4 separate regions of the Homo sapiens genome follow, and all the other regions are linked to region 1. The links come from fine-mapping of genetic effects on gene expression. A gene starts in region 1. Each other region holds a variant in brackets. All regions are shown on one strand. Distances are between the middles of the regions. Region 1 holds the start of SCN9A (sodium voltage-gated channel alpha subunit 9). Region 2 overlaps SCN9A (sodium voltage-gated channel alpha subunit 9). Region 3 overlaps SCN7A (sodium voltage-gated channel alpha subunit 7). Region 4 overlaps SCN9A (sodium voltage-gated channel alpha subunit 9).

Evidence for each region. PIP is the estimated chance that this variant, and not a neighbour inherited with it, causes the effect.
Region 2: its variant is the best candidate, but not a certain one, in a credible set for the expression of SCN9A in monocytes after interferon gamma (Fairfax 2014, PIP 0.63).
Region 3: its variant is the best candidate, but not a certain one, in a credible set for the expression of SCN9A in blood mononuclear cells (TOPMed, PIP 0.58).
Region 4: its variant is the best candidate, but not a certain one, in a credible set for the expression of SCN9A in whole blood (TOPMed, PIP 0.89).

Annotation. Positions count from the first base shown.
Region 1 is chr2:166,372,903-166,378,058 of GRCh38, forward strand. SCN9A (sodium voltage-gated channel alpha subunit 9) reads right to left here and starts at 3,042. Exons shown (of 27, transcript NM_001365536.1): 1 at 2,795-3,042.
Region 2 is chr2:166,310,131-166,315,286 of GRCh38, forward strand. It overlaps SCN9A (sodium voltage-gated channel alpha subunit 9), which reads right to left. Exons shown (of 27, transcript NM_001365536.1): 2 at 1,369-1,676. The coding sequence starts at 1,626. Among named protein-coding and RNA genes, the nearest start is that of SCN9A, 63 kb to the right of the region's middle. The variant C/CT (reference allele first, on the strand shown) is at 2,686.
Region 3 is chr2:166,400,835-166,405,990 of GRCh38, forward strand. SCN7A (sodium voltage-gated channel alpha subunit 7) reads right to left here. Exons shown (of 26, transcript NM_002976.4): 26 at 2,739-5,156. The coding sequence ends at 4,746. Among named protein-coding and RNA genes, the nearest start is that of SCN9A, 27 kb to the left of the region's middle. The variant T/C (reference allele first, on the strand shown) is at 2,027.
Region 4 is chr2:166,321,703-166,326,858 of GRCh38, forward strand. All of the region lies in intron 1 of SCN9A (sodium voltage-gated channel alpha subunit 9), which reads right to left. Among named protein-coding and RNA genes, the nearest start is that of SCN9A, 52 kb to the right of the region's middle. The variant G/A (reference allele first, on the strand shown) is at 2,296.

The DNA of each region.
Region 1 (5,156 bases):
TGCAAATTCACAAAATACCTGCATGCTGTAACAAGCAGTATGAAAGAAACAAGGTTCCAACATCAAGACCAACACGGGACAACCTACTTTTAACAAGATGATCAAAAATGATCTTTCCAAAACAAAAAAACCTCGAGTTGAGATTTAAAGTTTAAGAAGGAGTAAGCACGCATAGAGTTCAGGCATTGGGAACAGCATTTGAAAAGGCCTTAAAGAGTGCTATTGTTTCATGTGTTTTAGCCACGACCTGGGCAGGAGCACCTTAATGAGAAGAGAATAGGTTCTGGTGAGGTTGGAGAGAAGGGACAGAACAGAGAGTAAACCATATGCTGAGGAAAGGCATTTACTGTTGTTGCTAATTGGTCTCTGTGTTGCCATGTTTATTTCTTCTTCTCCTCTTCTTCTTCCTCTTTTTTTTTTTTTTTAAATGCAGTTGTGAGCCAATGTTTGTTAGGGGAGACAGGATGGTATTGCTTTGTATAGAGAATGAATTGCAGGGGAGAAAATTACAGAAGTGGAGAGATTGATATGGAGGCTGTGGCAGGATTCCAAGTAAATTATGATGATGACCTGAACTAATTTGGTGGCCGTGTAGATACAGAAAAGAGGGTGAATGAGAGGCATCTGAGACGTATGATGAAATAGAAATAAGTTTGGGAGATAAGATTGATAGATCTACTTACAGGCTGGAAAGGGCTGAAATGGAGTAATAAGGAAGAGAGCAATCAAAGGTGATTTCAATACTTGGATGGTGAAGGCATTTATTCAGATAATGAAGATGGGAGGAAAGAATCTGAGACAGAGTTTTAGGGAAAGTCATAAATTATTATCATTATGACATCTAGAATGTTCCATTTACATCAATAAACTTTAAGCTCTTTTACAAGATCATGACTTGTCTTAGAAAAGTACCATATAAATCCTTCTAGCACTTCACACTCTTTTGCATAACTAATAGGAATAGAAATTGGATAAAAAATAGATTTTATTATTCATGTAAAATGAAAAATTCTACTTTTTTCCTTGCCACAGAGAAAGTGGGTTGATTATATTAAATAAATAGAACCCTACTGATTGCTCTTCTGAATTTATTTATTTGTTTATCTATTTTGCTTCTGAAACTCAGCACAGCAACAGGTAGTAAAAACATAGAAGCATTACCACAGAAGGGCTCCCATGATTATATGCAGGCCCTAGGGGAAAGGAGGCCCAAGATGCTTTTGGCAGAGAGCCAGACCTGACTCATCTTTCTTCTGTAGAAGCATCAGGTACTCTGTGAGCCTAGCCCTGCACCATAGGAATCAAGGCATATCATATATCCAGTCACTGTAAAAACACATCACTGAGTCCCACAACTGCACAGTGGCTTACTTAAGGAAACCTCCTTTTAAACCTCTACAAAATTTTAAAAAACTTGTCTTAAGCCAAACTATCAGTTGCCTAAATAGAGGGCACATTCTTCTTTACATCAAATACCATATTCTGTCTAGAGTTTTGTTGTTGATAAGCTAGTCTAACAATCATGAAAATTTGCGACACAGGGATCAGATAAGACTAGCTTTCAAACTAATCAATAATTTTTAAAAAATCTCACCATAATTATAAGAAAAAATTATAAACTTTTTTAAATAGTGGAAAAAATCTGAAGAATTTGCAATAAAATGAACAGTTTAATAATTGGATTTGGTTTGCAGTTTATATAAAATAGGTTTATATTGATGTTAAAGCAAAAATTATAAAATATATTTAAATAACAAGGAAAGAAAGAGAAAGAAAATCTTTATCTTGTCTACAGGGAAGAAGAAATAGAAAAGAATAATAAATATGTTTCTGAAAAGAACTGAACTTCCCAACACTGACTTCCTATTCAGTAACTGACAAGCTATCACTTCCTTGAAAGCTTACTTTGATTTGGCTTTTATCTTACTGACACTAGCTTCTTAAAAACCCCCCTAAGTTTCTCATGTAAATTGCTCTTAACATCAGAGTAGATATAATCTATGAACGCTCCAACTTAAAAAAAAAAAACTAAAATAATGAGTGAAATGTTTACTATAATCACAAAAACTGGCATTAATGTTTCTAGTTTCTTGTTCTGATTTTTGTCTTGAATATAAGGCACGAAAATATCCATTTTTTCCTAAAAGTAAATGAGTTTCCCAAGTTGAATTCGATAAAAAGTTAAAAGGATTCTGCATCTTTTCTGAATTTCACTATAAAGTGCTTATTCGAAAAAATAAATAAATAATCTGCGCTGAGAAATAGGGGCAGAGCTGTCCTGTCAATTATTTGTGTTTGTGTGCTCTTAAGGGGTGCGGGGTTCTTTTCTGTCCCCACAGGTTGTATCTGCTAAGCTGGTTCTGCACGCTCAGCTTTGCAGATGGGAAATACAGCACATGCTTTTTGCTCGTAAAAAATGTGAGCTGCCCCTTGAATTGAAGTCCATCTAACAACTCTGCTAGCGTAAACAGAAATAAAAGACAGTAAACCACCAGGCATTGCTACCCTTCCTTTCCACAGTTTCAGAACCTGGCAGCAAACCCACAGAGTCAAAACCGCACAGGAGCTGCCCAGCTATCGAAATAACTACGCTTCCAGCCCTTCTTCCTCCCATTGCTGGAACCACCCGGTCAAGCTTCTCCCCTCTCTTCTTTCCAGGTGGCGTAATACAGGGTTCCAGAACCGAGATGTGAAAATAGACACAGGTGGGTGTGGCGGTTGAGGCGAGCACGGGCGAAAGACCGAGGGCTTCTCCTCCCCTCCCCACAGAAGCAGCAAAAGAAAAGGCACTTACTTGCAACCTAGCCCGCCGATCATCCCCACCCAGTGCACCTGCAGAATCTGGCTCCAGGAGAGGGCGCGGGCCTCTCCTTCCCCGGCGCTCTCTCAGGGCTGCTTCTTTTTCTCTGGGCTCCTGTTGCTCAGGGGACGCCTGCCGCTAGCAGCCACTGGCACCCAGGCTAGCCCAGCCTCAGCCGAGCTGGCGGAATTGGAAAGCCGACAGCCGCCGCTGGAGCGCTGGCGACCGCCTGCAAGCAGACTGCGCCCCTCCTGCCAGGGCGCGCCCGTGGAGGTAGCAGCCCCGCCTCCCCGAGGGCAGCTGCGCCGCTTTGCCTCCTCCACTCCTCCCAGCGCGCCCGGGTCCCCACCCCTTGCTCCCTCCCTCCCTCCCTCTCTCCACTCCTGCGGGCGGCGCAGGGCGGGGACCCAGCTAGGGGCGCGGTGGTGGCGACGCTGTAGCCTCTGCACCATGCGCTAATAGAAGGCGGAGGAGGGGGTTGCACGACCTGCCATCCACGGCCACCCATTGGGTGGGGCGTGTGTGTGTTTGAGTGTGTGTGTGTGTGTGTCCAGCAGCCAGAAGAGCCCTTCCCTTATCTCACCCCCGCCCCCATCATCCCTTTCCTCCCTTCCTGCTCAGCAGAATCGGCTAATGTTTCCGAGAAGTCACTTTGTGTGGCTTGGTGGGGAGCTGGAGAAAAACTCCGGAGCAGAGGAGGTGGGGACCAATGGCAAAGCCCTGAGTCTGGGGCAGTGGCTGGGGAGCCAGACAACACCGCCAGGCCAGCGCCTCCCCGACCTTGGGCTCTGAAGAGTCTAGGCTGGGAATTGGTTTCTTCCGTAGGGCTTTGCTCACAACCGCGAGTGGGGCGGTGACGCTCAAGACCGGTATCTAGGCTATGTTTTCTGTTTTCTTTATATATATGTATATATAAAATCAATTGAATTGCAGCGTCTTCCAGGCAAGCAAATAATACATTTTCTTTCGAAGATGCAGTGAAGAATCAGAGGAGGTCCTAGGTGGGGAAAGAAACGTGGGGAAAAGGCTGCTTTTCCAGACCTGGGACCCGATTATCTGAATATGCCATCAGTCATATGGGTTCTGAATTTCAGAGCTGGTAGGAGCGACTGTGAAAATAAATTTTTTAAAAATTCATTTTGTGTGGAGTGTGTGCGTGCGCTTTCCTACAGCAGCCTGGGAGGAAGAACAATGGAAACAGGGTTGAATTATCTTTCTCAAAGAGAAACAGGAAATTTCCACCAAGGGAAGAAATCAAAGGATGGCCATAGGGCAGGGTGCCTCTCAAAAGGGCAGACCACTTTGCAGGATAAACACTAGTGACGGGCACTTTTATTATTTGCTTCCACACCTTCTATCATGGAAATGATGCTTAGAGATAACCGGAAGGAAATCAAATCCCAGGGTCTACTTTTCCCTGCTGCTTTCTTTGCTTCTGAGATTTGTCCTGGGGCTTTGGACCTTACATTCTTGACTTGTAAGATGTGCTATTGAAGGAAGGAAACTTCAGTGACTGAGACTGTGCAATGAAGGTGAACTAGCTCACTTGTGATAATTCTCAGTGCCATATCCTGGACAAATCGCCTTCTCTTCCCTGATTGGTGGTAGATATAGGAAGAAGAGTTCAACTGCAATAGGAATAATGGTCTTTTTTATTAGATGCAAGCAATGCCACATTCTTTTATTTTTAAAATTTTATTTTTAGAGCAATTTTAGGTTCACAGCAAAACTGAAGGGAGGGTACAGAGATTTCCCACATAACCGCTACTCCCACACAAGAATAGCCTCCCCCATTATCAACATTCCCCACCAGAATGAAACATTTGTTAAAATTAATGAACTTACTTTGAGGTTTCATTATCTCCCAAGGTCTGTAGTTCACATTTAGGGTTAGCTCATGGTGTTGTCCATTCTATGGGGTTAGGCAAATATATAATGACATGTATCCACCATTACAGTATCTTACAGAGTAATTTCAGTTCTCTCCTGAATTCTCTGTGTTCCACTTATTCATCTCCCATTTCAACCCCTGGCAAGTACTGATCATTTTACTGTCTTTATAGTTTTGCCTTCTCCAGGATATCCTATAGTTGCAATAATACAGAATATAGCCCTTTCAGATTGACTCCTTTCACTTAGCAATATGCTTTTAGTTTTCCTCCATGGCTTTTCATAGCTTGATAGCTCATTTCTTTACAGTGCTGAATAATATTCCATTGACTGGTGGTACCATAGTTTATTCATTCACCTACTGAAGGACATCTTGTTTGCTTCCAAGTTTTAGCAATTATGCGTAAAGCCTCTATAAACATCTTTGTGAAGGTTACTGTGTGGACATGTTTTCAAGTCCTTTGGG
Region 2 (5,156 bases), 63 kb before region 1:
CTAAAACCATAAAAACCCTAGAAGAAAACCCAGGCATTACCATTCAGGACATAGGCATGGGCAAGGACTTCATGTCTAAAACACCAAAAGCAATGGCAACAAAAGACAAAATTGACAAATGGGATCTAATTAAACTAAAGAGCTTCTGCACAGCAAAATAAACTACCATCAGAGTGAACATGCAACCTACAAAATGGGAGACAATTTTCGCAACCTACTCATCTGACAAAAGGCTAATATCCAGAATCTACAATGAACTCAAACAAATTTACAAGAAAAAAACAAACAACCCCATCAAAAAGTGGGCAAAGGACATGAACAGACACTTCTCAAAAGAAGACATTTATGCAGCCAAAAAACACATGAAAAAATGCTCATCATCACTGGCCATCAGAGAAATGCAAATCAAAACCACAATGAGATACCATCTCACACCAGTTAGAATGGCAATCATTAAAAAGTCAGGAAACAACAGGTGCTGGAGAGGATGTGGAGAAATAGGAACACTTTTACACTGTTGGTGGTAAACTAGTTCAACCATTGTGGAAGTCAGTGTGGCGATTCCTCAGGGATCTAGAACTAGAAATACCATTTGACCCAGCCATCCCATTACTGGGTATATACCCAAAGGACTATAAATCATGCTGCTATAAAGACACATGCACACATATGTTTATTGTGGCATTATTCACAATAGCAAACACTTGGAACCAACCCAAATGTCCAACAATGATAGACTGGATTAAGAAAATGTGGCTCATATACACCATGGAATACTATGCAGCCATAAAAAATGATGAGTTCACGTCCTTTGTAGGGACATGGATGCAATTGGAAATCATCATTCTCAGTAAACTATCACAAGAATAAAAAACCAAACACCGCATATTCTCACTCATAGGTGGGAATTGAACAATGAAATCACATGGACACAGGAAGGGGAATATCACACTCTAGGGACTGTGGTGGGGTGGGGGGAGGGGGGAGGGATAGCATTGGGAGATATACCTAATGCTAGATGACCAGTTAGTGGGTGCAGCGCACCAGCATGGCACATGTATACATATGTAACTAACCTGCACAATGTGCACATGTACCCTAAAACTTAAAGTATAATTAAAAAAAAAAATTAAAAGTAGTATGCCAATGCCAGAGCCAATTTCAATGAAAAATTTGAAAAAGTACAGATTCTGAATATCCTATATATATATATATATATATATATATATATATATATATATATATATTTAATTTAACATTCTGGTCATGATATGGTTATTCACTAAATTTCACTAATCTCAATTTAAAATAATTTTTATACAGAAGGAAGCCAACAGAAACTGACCACTGAAGTCAAAATAAACTCACCTTTTTGTCTGCATAGTAGGGGTCCAAGTCCTCCAGGGGCTCTGACACCATGCCGGGAGGAATGTCCCCATAGATGAAGGGCAGCTGTTTGCCAGCTTCCAAGTCACTGCTTGGCTTTGGGGCTTCTTCATCATCATCTTTCTTTTCTTCTTTGGGTTCCTTTGATTTTCTTTCAGCAATGCGTTGTTCAATGAGGGCAAGAGACTGTTTTGTGAAATGGACAAAGCTCTGAGGTCCTGGGGGAGGCAACATTGCCATCTTTTCATCCTGTATATTTTAATTCCTCTTCAGCTCCTCACATAAGAGGCCTGGATGGAAACAAAGAAATAAAGACTTAACTATTTGCCTGCCAAGAAAGGCCCATTAAAAACTAATAATAACAACATAAACAGATTTTTAGTTTCAACTACAAAAGGTAACATGTTCTAGAATTATCAGCTTGTTAAGGGATTACTATGTGTCAGGCAATGGGCGGGACTTATCTTTCGTGCCTTCTAACCATCTTTATACTCAGAAATTTGAAGTTTACGCTTCATAGCTTTAAAGTAAAAAATGACAATTTTCTGAGTAAATTTTCCTAAATTCCCCTTCTTTTCGTCTATATTTACCTTTGGTGCAATTCAACTCAACTTTCCTCTTTTAAAAGTCTTTATGATAATGCCTTTGGTAGCACCACTCTCCAGCCTGATGCTGTTTTACCAACTAAACTTATGTAATATTCTAAATCCTCTGCTGTCACTTCAACAATGTTCATAACATCTTGACCAGGAGAAGATTCCATCTCACGAAACCACTTTCTTTGCTTATCAATCAGAAGCAACTCCTCATCCATTCAAGTTACCGCGAGATGGCAGCAATTCAGTCACAATTTTAGGCTCCATCTCTTAATTCTAATTCTCTTGCTATTTCCACCACATCTGCAGTTCTTTCCATCACTGAAGTCTTAAACCTCTCATAGTCATCCATGAGAGTTGGAATCAACTCATTCCAATTTCCTATTAATGTTTGTATATTGCCCTCCTCCCACAAATCATTAATGTTCTAATAACATCTAGAATGGTGAATCCTTTCCAGAAGATTTTCAATTTACTTTTCCCAGACCCATCAGAGGAATCACTATCTATGGCAGCTATAGTCTTATAAAATGTATTTATTAAAAAATAAGACTTAAAAGTTGAAATTACTCTTTGGCCCATAGGCTACAGAATGGATAGCGTTAGCAGGCATGAAAATAACATTAATGCCCTTGTACCTCTCCGTTAGAGCTCTTGAGTGACCAGGCACATTGTCAATAGGCAGTGATATTTTGAAAGAAAT[C/CT]TTTTTTTTTTTTCCTGAGCTATAAGTATCAACACTGGGCCTAAAATATTTAGTGAACCATGCTGTAAACAGACGTGCTGTCATCCAGGCTTTGTTGTTCTATTTATAGAGCACAGGCAGAGTAGATTTAGTATAATTCTTAAGAGATTTTCTGAATGATTAAATAATATAATTATTATTTAATTTTCTGAATAATTAAATAATATAGTTATTATTTAATTTTCTGAATAGTAAAGAATATAATTATTTAATTTTCTGAATAGTAAATAATATAATTATTATGTAATTTTCTGAATAGTAAATAATATAATTATTATGTAATTTTCTGAATAGTAAATAATTATTAATATTCTGAATAATTAAATAATATAATTCTAAGATTTTCTGAACGATAAATTAGCATTTGCTTCAATTTAAAGTCACCAGCTGCATTATCCCCTAACAAGAGAGTCAGCCTGTTCGTTGAAGCTTTGAAGCCAGACATTGACTTCTCCTTTCTAGCTATAATATATTCTTCTAGTAGAAGGCTGTTAGACCTTCATTGCAAATCTGTTGTTTAATGTAACCACTCTTATCAATGATCTTAGCTAGATCTTCTGAATAACTTGCTGCATCTTCTCCATTGGCACTTGCTGTTTCACCTTGCATTTTTATGTTATGGCAGTGACTTCTTTCCTTCAATCTCATGGGGTACCGTCTGCCAGCTTCAAACCTTTTTTTTCCAGCTTCTTCACCTCTCAGCCTTCATACAATTGGAGTTATGGCCTTGCTGTGGATTAGGCTTTGGCTTAAGGAAATGTTGTGGCTGGTTGATCTTCTATCTAGATCACTAAAACTTTCTCTATATTTGCAATAAGGCTGTTTTGTTTTCTTATCATTCATGTGTTCACTGGAGTAGCACATTTGATTTCCTTCAAGAATGTTTCCTTTGCATTCACAACTTGGCTAAGTACTTAGTGCAAGAGGCCTAGATTTTGGCCTATCTTGGCTTTCAACATGCCTTCCTCACTAAGCTTAATCATTTCTAGCTTCTGATTTAAAGTGAGAAATGCGCAATTCTTCCTTTACTTGAACATTAGGGGTGGGAATGGGTTACTAATTGGCCTAATTTTAACATCGTTGTGTGTCAGGGAACAGGGAAGCCTGAGGAAAGGGAGAGAGATAGGGATGCTGAAACAGAACACGTCACATTTAATGATTGTTTGCTGTCTTATGTGGATGTGGTTCATAGCACCCCAAAACAATTACCACAGTAACAACAAAGATCACTGATCATAGATCACCATAACACATACAGTAATAATTAAATAATGGCAATTACAAAGTTGAAATATTGTGAGAATTGCCAAAGTGTGACACAGATGCATGAAGTGAGCACATGCTGTTGAAAAAATTACGCTGACAGACTTGCTTAATGCAGGGTTGCCACAAACCTTCAACTTGTAAAGAATGCAGTATCTTGAAGTGCAATAAAGTAAAGCCCCATAAAATGAAGTATGCCTGTATTTTGATGGAAACCAAAGTTAGGATAAAGGTTTTTAAAGAATGTAGTGAAAAATAAGGGATATTTCATATACACATTCAAAAGTAGGATGATTCTGAAAGGTAAAGAGTAAGTTATGACTCGGCAATTCCACTACTTGGTACAGACTCAAGGGAATTTAAAACATATGTCCACACAAGAACGTTTACATGAATGTTCAGCAGCATTATTCATACTAGCCAAAAAGTAAACACAACCTCATTACTCACCAATGAATAAATGGATAAAGGAATGTGGGATATTCAAACACTGAATTAGTATTTAGCAATAAAAACAAATGAAGTATAGGTACATGTTACAACATGGATGTGATGAAAACCCCGTGAAAGAACACAGAGCCAAAAGGCCACATACGATATGATTCCATCTTATGAAATGTCCAGAATAGGCAAATCCCCAGAAACAAAATGTAGAGTATTTTTTGTCAGAGGCTGGGTGTAATAGGAAGTGATTATTGATGGTTATGTGGTTAATGGTTAAAGAGTATGGGGCTTCTTTTGGGGTGATAAAAATATTCTAAAACTACATAATGATGATTGTTGCATACCTTTGTGAACATACTAAAAACCACTGAGTGATACACTTTAAAATGGTGATTTTTTATGGTGTGTAAATTATATCTTAATAAAACTACTATGAATATGCATTAAGAATTTTGAATCCTAAAATATGTGAAAATTGTCCTCAGAATAGGAAGAGATTTAGTAAAAAGGAAACAAATCAATGAATCAAATCAAAGCAGTTGCCACTTGTGCTTTGGAGATTCCTCAACACTTTTGGAAATCATAAAGGTGAGAAGACGGGATAACTTGCCTCACTAGACTTTCAGTGTAGACATACTGTGGCTCTTGAAGAAAAGTTGGCTTGAATAACTGGTGTTTTTGTAGATTCTACATTCAACTGGAGGGTACCATCTCTTTCAAGAATT
Region 3 (5,156 bases), 28 kb after region 1:
TGGTAGGAGGGAGAGAATCAGGAAAAATAACTAATGGGTACTAGGCTTAAGACCTGGGTGATGAAATAATCTGCACAACAAATCCCCATGACACAAGTTTACCTATGTAACAAACCTGCAATTGTACCCCTGAACTTAAAATAAAAGTTAAACAAAAAAGAAAAAGAATAACATATTATATTATTCCATTAATATTAACTGTCTAGAACAGATAAATCTATAGAGACAGAAAGTAAATTCATGGTTTTCTAGGGTTAGGTGATGGTGGAATATGGAGTGACTCTCAACAGAGATAAAACTGTTATAAACTTGAATTGCTGTGATGCTTGTACAGCTCTGTTAATATACTAAAACCATCTAATTATATACTGTACAAGGAGAATTTCATATGTTAATCATGTCTCAATAAATATATTTTAAAAAGAATGATAGACAATACGAGCAATTTCATGTATAAGATAGGTTTTGCTTGGTAATTGAGAAAACCCACTTTAAGTGTTCTCCTTTTTTAAAATTTTAGAGACAGGGTCTCACTATGTTGCCCAGGCTGGTCTTGAACTACTGGGCTCAAGCAATCCTCCCACCTTGGCCACCCAAAGTGCTGAGATTTCAGAAATGAGCTACTGCACCCAGTCTAAGTGTTCCTTTGAGGTCACCTCAACCTTAACACTCTTGAGTTGTCATTTTTCTTTCCCTCATATGAACACATTCTAGAATCCAACTCTACCATCTCATGCCATTTTTTGAATGCTTTTTGCATAAACATACAAGTAGAGAGACTTGGGGTTTATGGACTCTATTTTTCACACTTCTATATTTGCTGTCACTTCAGCTTAGGATGTCATTCCTCATATTCATCATGACCTCCAACAAAATCCCATTTACTTGAACACTTAGCTTAAGATCCAGCTTTTCTGCTAAGTTCAGTAAGATTTTCCACTAGCCCTTGTTGAGGATCTCCATTATTGGAAGGGAGTTAACAAATAGTTCCAACATGGTGTTTTACTTGTCACACTAAGAAATGACTTTTTAAAGATAAGAGCAACCCTATTTATCTCTAAATTGTTGTGCCTAATACCTAGGAGGTGCTCAACAGATTTTTATTACAGGACAACATGGAGGGAGAAAATAAGGAAAAATGGTGATAAAATTGTGTATAAATGTGGACTGAGAACTTATGGATCATTTGAAGGTGTAGGCTTTCAAAAAGCCTAGACCAGAATCAAGGAGTATAGGGTTACGCCACCTGGATAGAGAGTAGAACCTAGGGCTGGAGTTGAGATAGAATTATTTGAGTCAGTGTGTGATTATAAGTAGTTGAAGACAGAGGTTTCCATACAGATGAGGAGATGATTAAGTGTCTAAGCCTGAAAGTTTTAGTTTACCGAACATAAAGATGAAAATTTCCACTTGTGAAGACTCAAATCATTCATTGGAGTTCTTTATTAACCATCATAGCTAAGAATGCAGACCCAGAATTTATGGAAAGGAACAGACAACAGAAGAGAAAGTTCAAAAACCAAAGGGAAAAATAAAACATGTCTGAGAAGGGATTTGAGGTGTCCAGAGTAATTCTGCTCAGATTTTCTAGCTAATCTCTGCAATAGGGATTGCATCGTCTCCTTGGTTCATATCTCTTTATCCTCCAGGCTGAAGAACTATAAGCTGGATGCCTAGGTCTCATATCTGTGGTGGACTCTTCTCCTTAAAAGTGCCTCTGTGTTTAATAAAATTGCCTTCTTTAATTGACAAAGTCCTCCTTTCTCTGCAGGAGCCCACTTTACTCACTTCACCTCTGATATCCAACACAGAACCCATCATTCCTGCCTATATGTGTATTACAATGTACACTCACAGTATAAAAATTATCACATATTATAACCAGCTGCATATTACGTTTCCCCCCAGTAGTCAGTAAGCCCTTCAGTCTCAGATATATCTTTATCTGAATAGGATCTGAGTTTACCTTTAGTATTCAGCATTCACAAAACGTTGAATTTTTCAACTTCTATAATTTTATCCCTTA[T/C]GACTTCCCTTTTTCCAGGGAATGTCTCTACTTTTAAAATTTACTGCACCAAATGGGGAAAGTGGGACAGCGGGAGATGGAGAGCGAGCGAGCGAGAGAGCGAGTGTGAGAGAAAACACATTAAGGCTCTGTAACTGGACCTGGTTTAGAGTCCTGGCCTTTTTACTTATAGGGTCTCTGCCATATAAAAACTTCATAACCTTTCTAAACCTAACTTTTTTCACTCATGAACTGAGAGTGATCACTTCTTCATGCACGATAAATACATACGATAAGGCTGGGCATAGAAGTGTGCTCAATAAATGGTAGCTGTTACCATTATCTTTAAAACAATTTCAAGTGTATTATATTTACTAATGAAGCACAATAAAATTTTTGAAGATGCAGAAATTGATAAATAGTAGTGTACCAATAAATTTAATTTCAGTATTATCTTCCAGAAAGCAAATTCTAATAATACGAAAATATATCTAGTAAAATTATCATTATAATTTTGATAAGAAGAGTGATCATTTTACATCTTGTTAATGTGTAGGGGCCACTGGTAAGCTTACTAAAATGTATTTTACAAAATTATGTGATCTAAAGAAAGCACAACTGTTTCCAGTTTTAAGCCTGAATTAACAAACTTTAATGTAAAGCTTATTTTTAAAAAGTATACTACACAAAGTTGCCAATGTGATTTATCAAATTAAAAACAAACATAGCTTAATGTGGTTTACAGGTTATATTTATTATTTTCTATAGTATCTAAAAAGTAACATATATTGTTAAGACTTTGTTAAAAATAACTCTTTACACAGCTTTCGGAAGGTAACTGGCAAACAAGGTTTACAAGTAAAAGATAAACTTTTCAAACTAAAATCAGTTTGTTGTCTTTACGCAATTTACAGAAGCAAGTTATGATTCAATTTAAGTATCTGAAGCAGTTTCCACAATAAAGCATTCCCAAGAAATAGAAAACGGAGCTTAGATAAAGCACCAGCTGTCACATTGTCACCAAGTTAACACTGGTTCCTCACTGGTCTCCATAACATGATGGAGAGCAGGAGAAGAAAGGGAAGGAACACTTAGAGAGGAAAAAAAAAAAACCCTGAAATCTGAAATTACATTTACTTAGGGCATCCCCTAAAGGCATCTTGGTTAGGTTATTCAATTTCTGAGGGGCAGAAAAAGATTATAGTAGTTAAGGCTTGAGATCATGCATTCAGAATAAAATACAATCACTGATACATAAACTATATTGAATGTTATACAACATATTTAAAGGATGATATTTAAATCAATAATATATAAATTTTCTTTCTGAATCTTTTAGGACTTAGCAGGCACATTGAAATCAATCTTCATAAAGTTGGAATAACTCTCAGAATCTCAAACTACATAGAAGTAAATGACTATATTTGTATGAATAAGTCTAAGGACAACTATTTATGCCTATCTTTAAAAAACAATTTCAATAGTGAAAACTAATGTTTAGGATTTTACAGTTCTTTGAATATAAAACATTTTATAGAGTATGGATGTATATGATGAGATTAAAAAACTTGAAAACGTAAATATATAAGGGAAAACTAACTTGTACATACTGTTATAAAACAACAACAAATTTAAACTTTTATCTCCTAATTCATAGTTCTCATAGTTTGAGTGACCATTGTCTCTCTCTAAGTTATAAAGAATTATAACATACAGTAAAAAGTACTTTAAAGTTGCCACAACTTTCCAATTAAGGGCCAAGACACTATGAGAATCCCTATACATAATGGTAGTTCTCAACTCTTCTAATTCATGTTTAAACATACATTTGTCAGATCTTATATATTCAATGTTACATTAGAAATAACTGGTAAAAATACATCAATTTCATAAGGTAAAGCTTGAGTCTATTAACATGTTATTTATTACATCATTTTAGTAAATGTATACTTTTTAAAAAAATAGGTGTAAATGAGAAGAAAATGAAAAAAAAAAAAAAAAAAAAGGCTATACCTCTCCTTTATGCTTCTTGTTTTACGAATCTGTCCTGCTTAAGAGCCAGAGCTTAGGTGAAACTATCCAGAGATGAGAAACCAGGAGCTTGAGCACAATGAAATCCTATTCATTCCCAGTTCCAAATGAAAACAAGAACATACAAAAATAAACACAGAGCTTCAACCAATCTTTTTCAAATGCAGTTTTAATCAGCCCAAGAATCTCTGAGGTTGATCTCAAAGGCACTTTCTAAAGAACTGCTCTCTCCCTTCTTCCAATTGGCTTTTGTCTAGGCAAGTTTATGATTTAATGGCCATTAGCATTTCACCATCCCACATCAGGAAAGTATTTGCTTATTTGTAAGTCTTAATAGTGGTGACTTAAAGCCCATTAAATTATACATAAAATATAAAAGAAAGCCCCTGCTGCTGCTGATCTCTATCACCACTTCCCTTCATTCCCTAGAAGGCACACATCATATAAGCCATGTAGAGAAAACAAATATGAGATTGTCAAATGGCCACTTTAACCCACTTTAAACTCACTGCAGCAATATTAAGGATTCTCTTGATTTGTTAGATATAATGCTAAAAAGTGAATTTGGCATGAAGTCTTGTGAATACAAGCTTAATTACCATCGGTTGTAAAGAACTGATTATTATCTCTACTTTTCTTTTATTCCTGGCTTAGGCTTTCAACATTTTTCAGATATGTGAAGAAATATGAAAAGAGGTGGTAAGTGGTATTAGATCTGGCTTTGAATAGGTGACTTTTCCTTAGCTTTGTCAAAATAGGCACCTTCTTTAGTAGCATGAACATCTCTGTCACCATCTATCATATGAATATCTGATGTATTTTTGTCATTTCGCCTCAAGCGGTAATTTTTATAAGCACGTTGAATGATGGTTGCTGAAACTGCCTCTTGTTTTCGTTTCAAAGTAGTCGTAATTGGCTCACATGTGATCTTAAAAGGGTTGGCTAACAAAAACCCTGATTCTATTTCTGAAACAACTTTCTCCATCCTCACATCTTGACCCATAACTCTCTTTGTAAAAGCAAGTAAGATATCGAGGCAATGAATTCTGTCCCCAACAGCCATGGGGAGGTCCAAAGCAATGAGCTGGCCCTTGTTTGGTTTTGCCATGAAAAGAGGAGG
Region 4 (5,156 bases), 51 kb before region 1:
ATGTTTTAATATTTACTTTTTAATTCTCAACATTTTAAGCATCATTCATGTCACTTATATCACTTCATTCCAATTATAGCCTGGCAAAATCTTTTTTTTTTTTTTTTTTTGGTAACTCTTATTCTCTCCAAGTTCTTTTGAGGCATGCAGTGCTCCTCCTCAGAGTTTTGCTCATACTCACTCATCCCTCATCCTCCAAACCTGTCAGCTCTAAAGCATCCTCAGTCAATCTGTTGTCAAGCAATAAGCAAGAAGAAGGAAGAACTCTTGATGCTGTAAAATAATCAAGAGTTACATTAGGTCTTTCCTAGCATTTATTTTAAAACGCTGATCTTCCAACTTTCAGGAATGTGTAACAACATTCAAAAAGAAAGGACAAAGATACTAAAAGAAATAGATTTATTTTATCAGCCTAATAACTAAAAATTTGTATTACTTTATGAAACACTACTTAGAAAACACTTTTTTAAAAAAAATTTCATTTTATTTGAGTTTCTATAGTTTCTTCTTAATTTGGAGCTTTTGTAAAATCTTTAATATACAGCTCGATTTCCATTTGATCCAATGTAAAATGAATAAAATCCTTCAGCAACAGTTACAATATATATCATGAAGTGTACTTCTATTCCATACAGAACAATTCACACTGGTTTCAGTGGCTCACAGGTCAATAATCATCTTGGCCTTTCCCATTACAATTTGTGCTCCACATTTTAGAGCTGTTGACCCTGTGGAGATGACATAACCTCTCTGAGCCTAAGATTCCTAGTTTGAAAAATTGAGTTAATAATCATGCTCCGAAGAGTGGTTTAGATTGTGATGGTTAACTGTATATAAAGTGCTTAACAGGAAGAGTTTTGCACATAATGAACACGTATTCATGGAGCTCATAAGATTATTAACTTGTCTCATCCTTCTATTTTAATTCCTTGCTTTGGATAATTTTATCATGCTTCCATAATTAAAATATATTAATTATATTAAATGAGGATATTTCCATTTATGGGAATGTATTGGCCTTTTAAACATGAAACATTTCATATGAGCATGTAATATTAAACAGAGATTTAGTTTAGAGTAGTGAGTCTAGGACAAGTTCAGGAGCTAGAAAGCCTGGGTTTTGAATACTGGATTCACTACTTACTAGCTAAATGATCTTGGACATCCCAGTTAAGCAACTTTTCTGATTCTAAAAATGTTGAGGCATTTAGGACATTATTTATTTTGTAAAATGTAATTTTAAACAATACAAGAGTATCCCTAGAATGACTGTTGATTGCTCAAAGGATTGGGTCACTGCAGAATTTCCTTTCTTAAGAAAATTCCCATCATTTCACCTTTGTTGTTTTGAACTTTATATGAAGACTTGCAAAATATTTTTTAATTAGACAAAGTCATGTGGCTCAAGAACTATCATTAAGACTTTTTTCTTTTTTATTCATTGAATATTGCTGAACAGGGTCAAAAGCAAATAAATTCCAACACTTGGTTTATCTTCTGAGAAACATTTAAATATCATTAATGTAATCTCTGAACAGAATACAAGAATGATCCCTTCCTTCAAGCAAAGAAATATTACAGTCTCTCCAGAGTTTTAGAGACTCTGTGTGCCTGGTATGGCTCTGAACATACTATTTGGAAAACGGTATTCTTGAAGTCAAATATTGGAAGCAGACATCAGGAAAATTATTTGGGGGACTTCCTTTCATCCCCAAGGTACTATGAAAACCCTTCACATAGGGAAAATCTATAGGATGAGGTGGGAAGTGGGTTTCCCTAAGTGTTCACAGTAAAAATTGTAAATCCTCTAAAAAATCACTGAAGTAAACACCAACACTAATTTTTACCTAATAACTAAAAGGAAAAAATGTGAGTTGTGCCCATTATATTAGACTGGAAAAGGTCTCAGTGGCCTCTATTACCTTCTTGGCCACATAACAGGTACTAAATACTCCAAACTGCAGTTCCCAAATGATTTATTAGTGTCAGGGCACCAATTCTATTGTGGCTCAGTTAGAGTATGTGCATATTATGTCCATATAATTTTGTAATATGTTGTGCTTTTGTAATAATTAATGTTTATCTTATATATGAAAGCTATATTTATTTAAGAGAATAAGTTATTCTCTTAAAAATATCTCCCAGATAATTCCTTTAAACAGTATGTTTCCTTTGATAACTTTTGACATCTCTTGTAGAAAGCAAGTAGTGTTTACTTGTTTGTTTCTTTAATCTTGATTAGAGGGACTATGATATGACATTTTCTTATTTCAAGGAGCAGGAAAATAGCTACAC[G/A]CTCACAACTCTATATTTTCTTATTTCAAGGAGCAGGAAAATAGCTACATGCTCACAACTCTATAATAATTTCAGGCTGTTTTGCATTCCATCACTGAGCCTCTTACCTGTAAATAACTTAATCTTATTTCGATAAAATTACAACAATTAGCCAGGTGTGGTGTGGGCGCCTGCAATCTCAGCTACTCAGGAGGCTGAGGCAGGAGAATTACTTGAACCCAGCAGGCAGAGGTTGCAGTGAGCCGAGATCGCGCCACTGCACTCCAGCCTGAACCAGAGAGCGGGACTCCATCTCAAATAAATAAATAAATTTATTTATTTAAAATTGGTCCAATTAATCATTTGGAAGATCTGCCAAAATCTGAATGAGATTGAGTCAGTATAAATATTTAAGACAGTGGACAAATGTAAAGATAAATAAAAAATACATTTTTATTGATGCTAACTGTTGTAAAATGAAATACTGCTTTGAAAATGTCACTTCTCTAGAAACACATAGTGATTTTTTCCTGCAGGTAAAATCTTGACTGAAGTACCATTAATTTTTAAAGCATTCTCAAGGCACCATAGAATCAGAACATGAGAACCTAAAAAGTTTATTTAAATCATAGTTAACATCAACAACGATAACTCATTGACAATGTGTACCATTGATACTATGTGATGAGAATGGCCTTTTACATATGTGATCTTCCTTCCCAAAACTTATAGCCTTAATCTAACCATGAGAAAAATATCAGACAAATACCAATTCAGGAACATTCTACAAAATACCTAACCTATACTCACTCAAAGTATCAACATCATCAAAAACAAGGAAAGCCTGAGAAATTGCGACAGCCTAGAGATGCTTAAGGTGATATGATGGTATGATGGTTAAATGTAATGTGGTAGCCTGGGTGAGATCTTGAAAGAGAAAAAGGAAATTAGTGAAAAACTAAGGAACTCTGAATAGGGTAAGGGCATTTGTTAATAATAATGATGTATCACATGGTTTTGTTAATTGTGACAAATGCGCCATACTAATATAAACTGTTAATAACAGGGGAAACTGGATGTGGGGTATATTGAAACTGTCCTTACTATCTGCACCATTTTTCCATAAATCTATTCCAAGACAAAAGTTTAAGCAAAAGGAAATCACAGATGTAGAATTATTCTAATATTAAATAAAGGTAATAATAGCTCAGTGAATTTGAATTTATCAGGTAAATGCATTGCCATTATCTATATTATCTATAATATACCTAAGTGATAATAGACATAAATTTGAACCACTTTTAATTAAAATGAATTACAATTAATACATTAAAAATACATATTTTACACAGTACAAAATAGCATTGCTTTGATCAATAGGAGATCCATTAGAAATGCTGATCAGTTTTCTTAAAGTAATCATGCCTGGGAGGATAATTTTCTATAAATGCACTCTCCTGGGTCAGGAATGAGCTTATGACTTATAAACATAGAACTAAACTGGAGTCACAATGTCTGAGTCCTAATTATACTTGAGAGTCATTATGTCTTATTATAATAGGCTAAAAAAATACACTTATGAGGGAATCTGTGTGTATTTTCTTTTAGAATAAGTACAATTTAACTCCCTCAACCATGGTAAGCATACTAAATATCTTTTAAGTTGTTAAATTGAAGCTTTATTACATATCCATCTTAATGATGCCGTTAAGGTACAAAAGGCTGACTTTTGATTTCTGTGTTACTTTAGGAACTGTGAGGTAACATAGAGATAAAAGAAATGTATTTGACTCTGAGATTCTCATTTTACTGAGCTCTGAACACCTGATAACATCATCAGAGCAAGACAAAAATACAGCTCCACTCTGGCTGACAAGGATACGCTTAACCCTGGTTTATAACTACAAAAGCCCCTTTTGTCAATAATATTTTAAATTACTCTCCTATGTTCGATAACATCACCTTCATAACTTATCTACTCATAACATAAGACTTCCCATGATAAAAGAGAAATATGTCATCAGGAGAGATGAGAGAGGCAATGTTTCCTTCCAGTATGAACTCTTATAGGCCTTCTCCCATGAAAACAGAAAAATTTCCAGATGGATCTGAAAACTCTGTTCTATGTCTTGGCACCAAGAAAATATTGGAGTCCTTCCTACACCTGGCCTCCGATTGAATAAGTGAAATATCAAGATAATAAAAATTCTATATGTCAATAACAAGATAAAGCTGAAACATTCAAAGACAATAAGAAGTACAATTTAGTCATTGAATAGCTCTACAGTTTAGATAAGAAAGTCAAAGGTGCGAAACGATTGAATCTGGAGAATACAGGGGAAAAATAATACTTAAACCAAGTCTATATCCATTCCTATGTGCTCCTTGAATTATAAGGGTATCTCAGTATTTCTCATTTTACTAATCTAAATACCTGATAACATCTTTGGAGGAAGGAAATAGACAGCTCTACCCTAGCTGTCAGGGTTACACTTATAAATTTGATTCAATCCTTGGCAGGATGTCTACAGCATTTATGTTCCAAGCCAGGATTTTGTGTCAAGAATAAATGCTACACAACACAGAAAATACCAAGACAGCAGGAATGACCTTGGACTGTTCTAGGCAAGCTTAGATATATGATGATCTTACCATTGAGAGATCCTTGGAGAAATAGCCAAATAGGACCCAAGGTCCTGGCACCACCTCATAATACTTTTCTTTTTTTATGAGAGCATATTAGACTAACCATCCTACTGACTATTCTTTATCAAAGTAAGCCATAGTTATTGTGAACTTTTCTGAAAGATTTTGTGGCTGCACAACAGTGCTGTAGTAAGCAGATGTCATATATTAATCACTAGTGTTTGGAAATCCTGCAC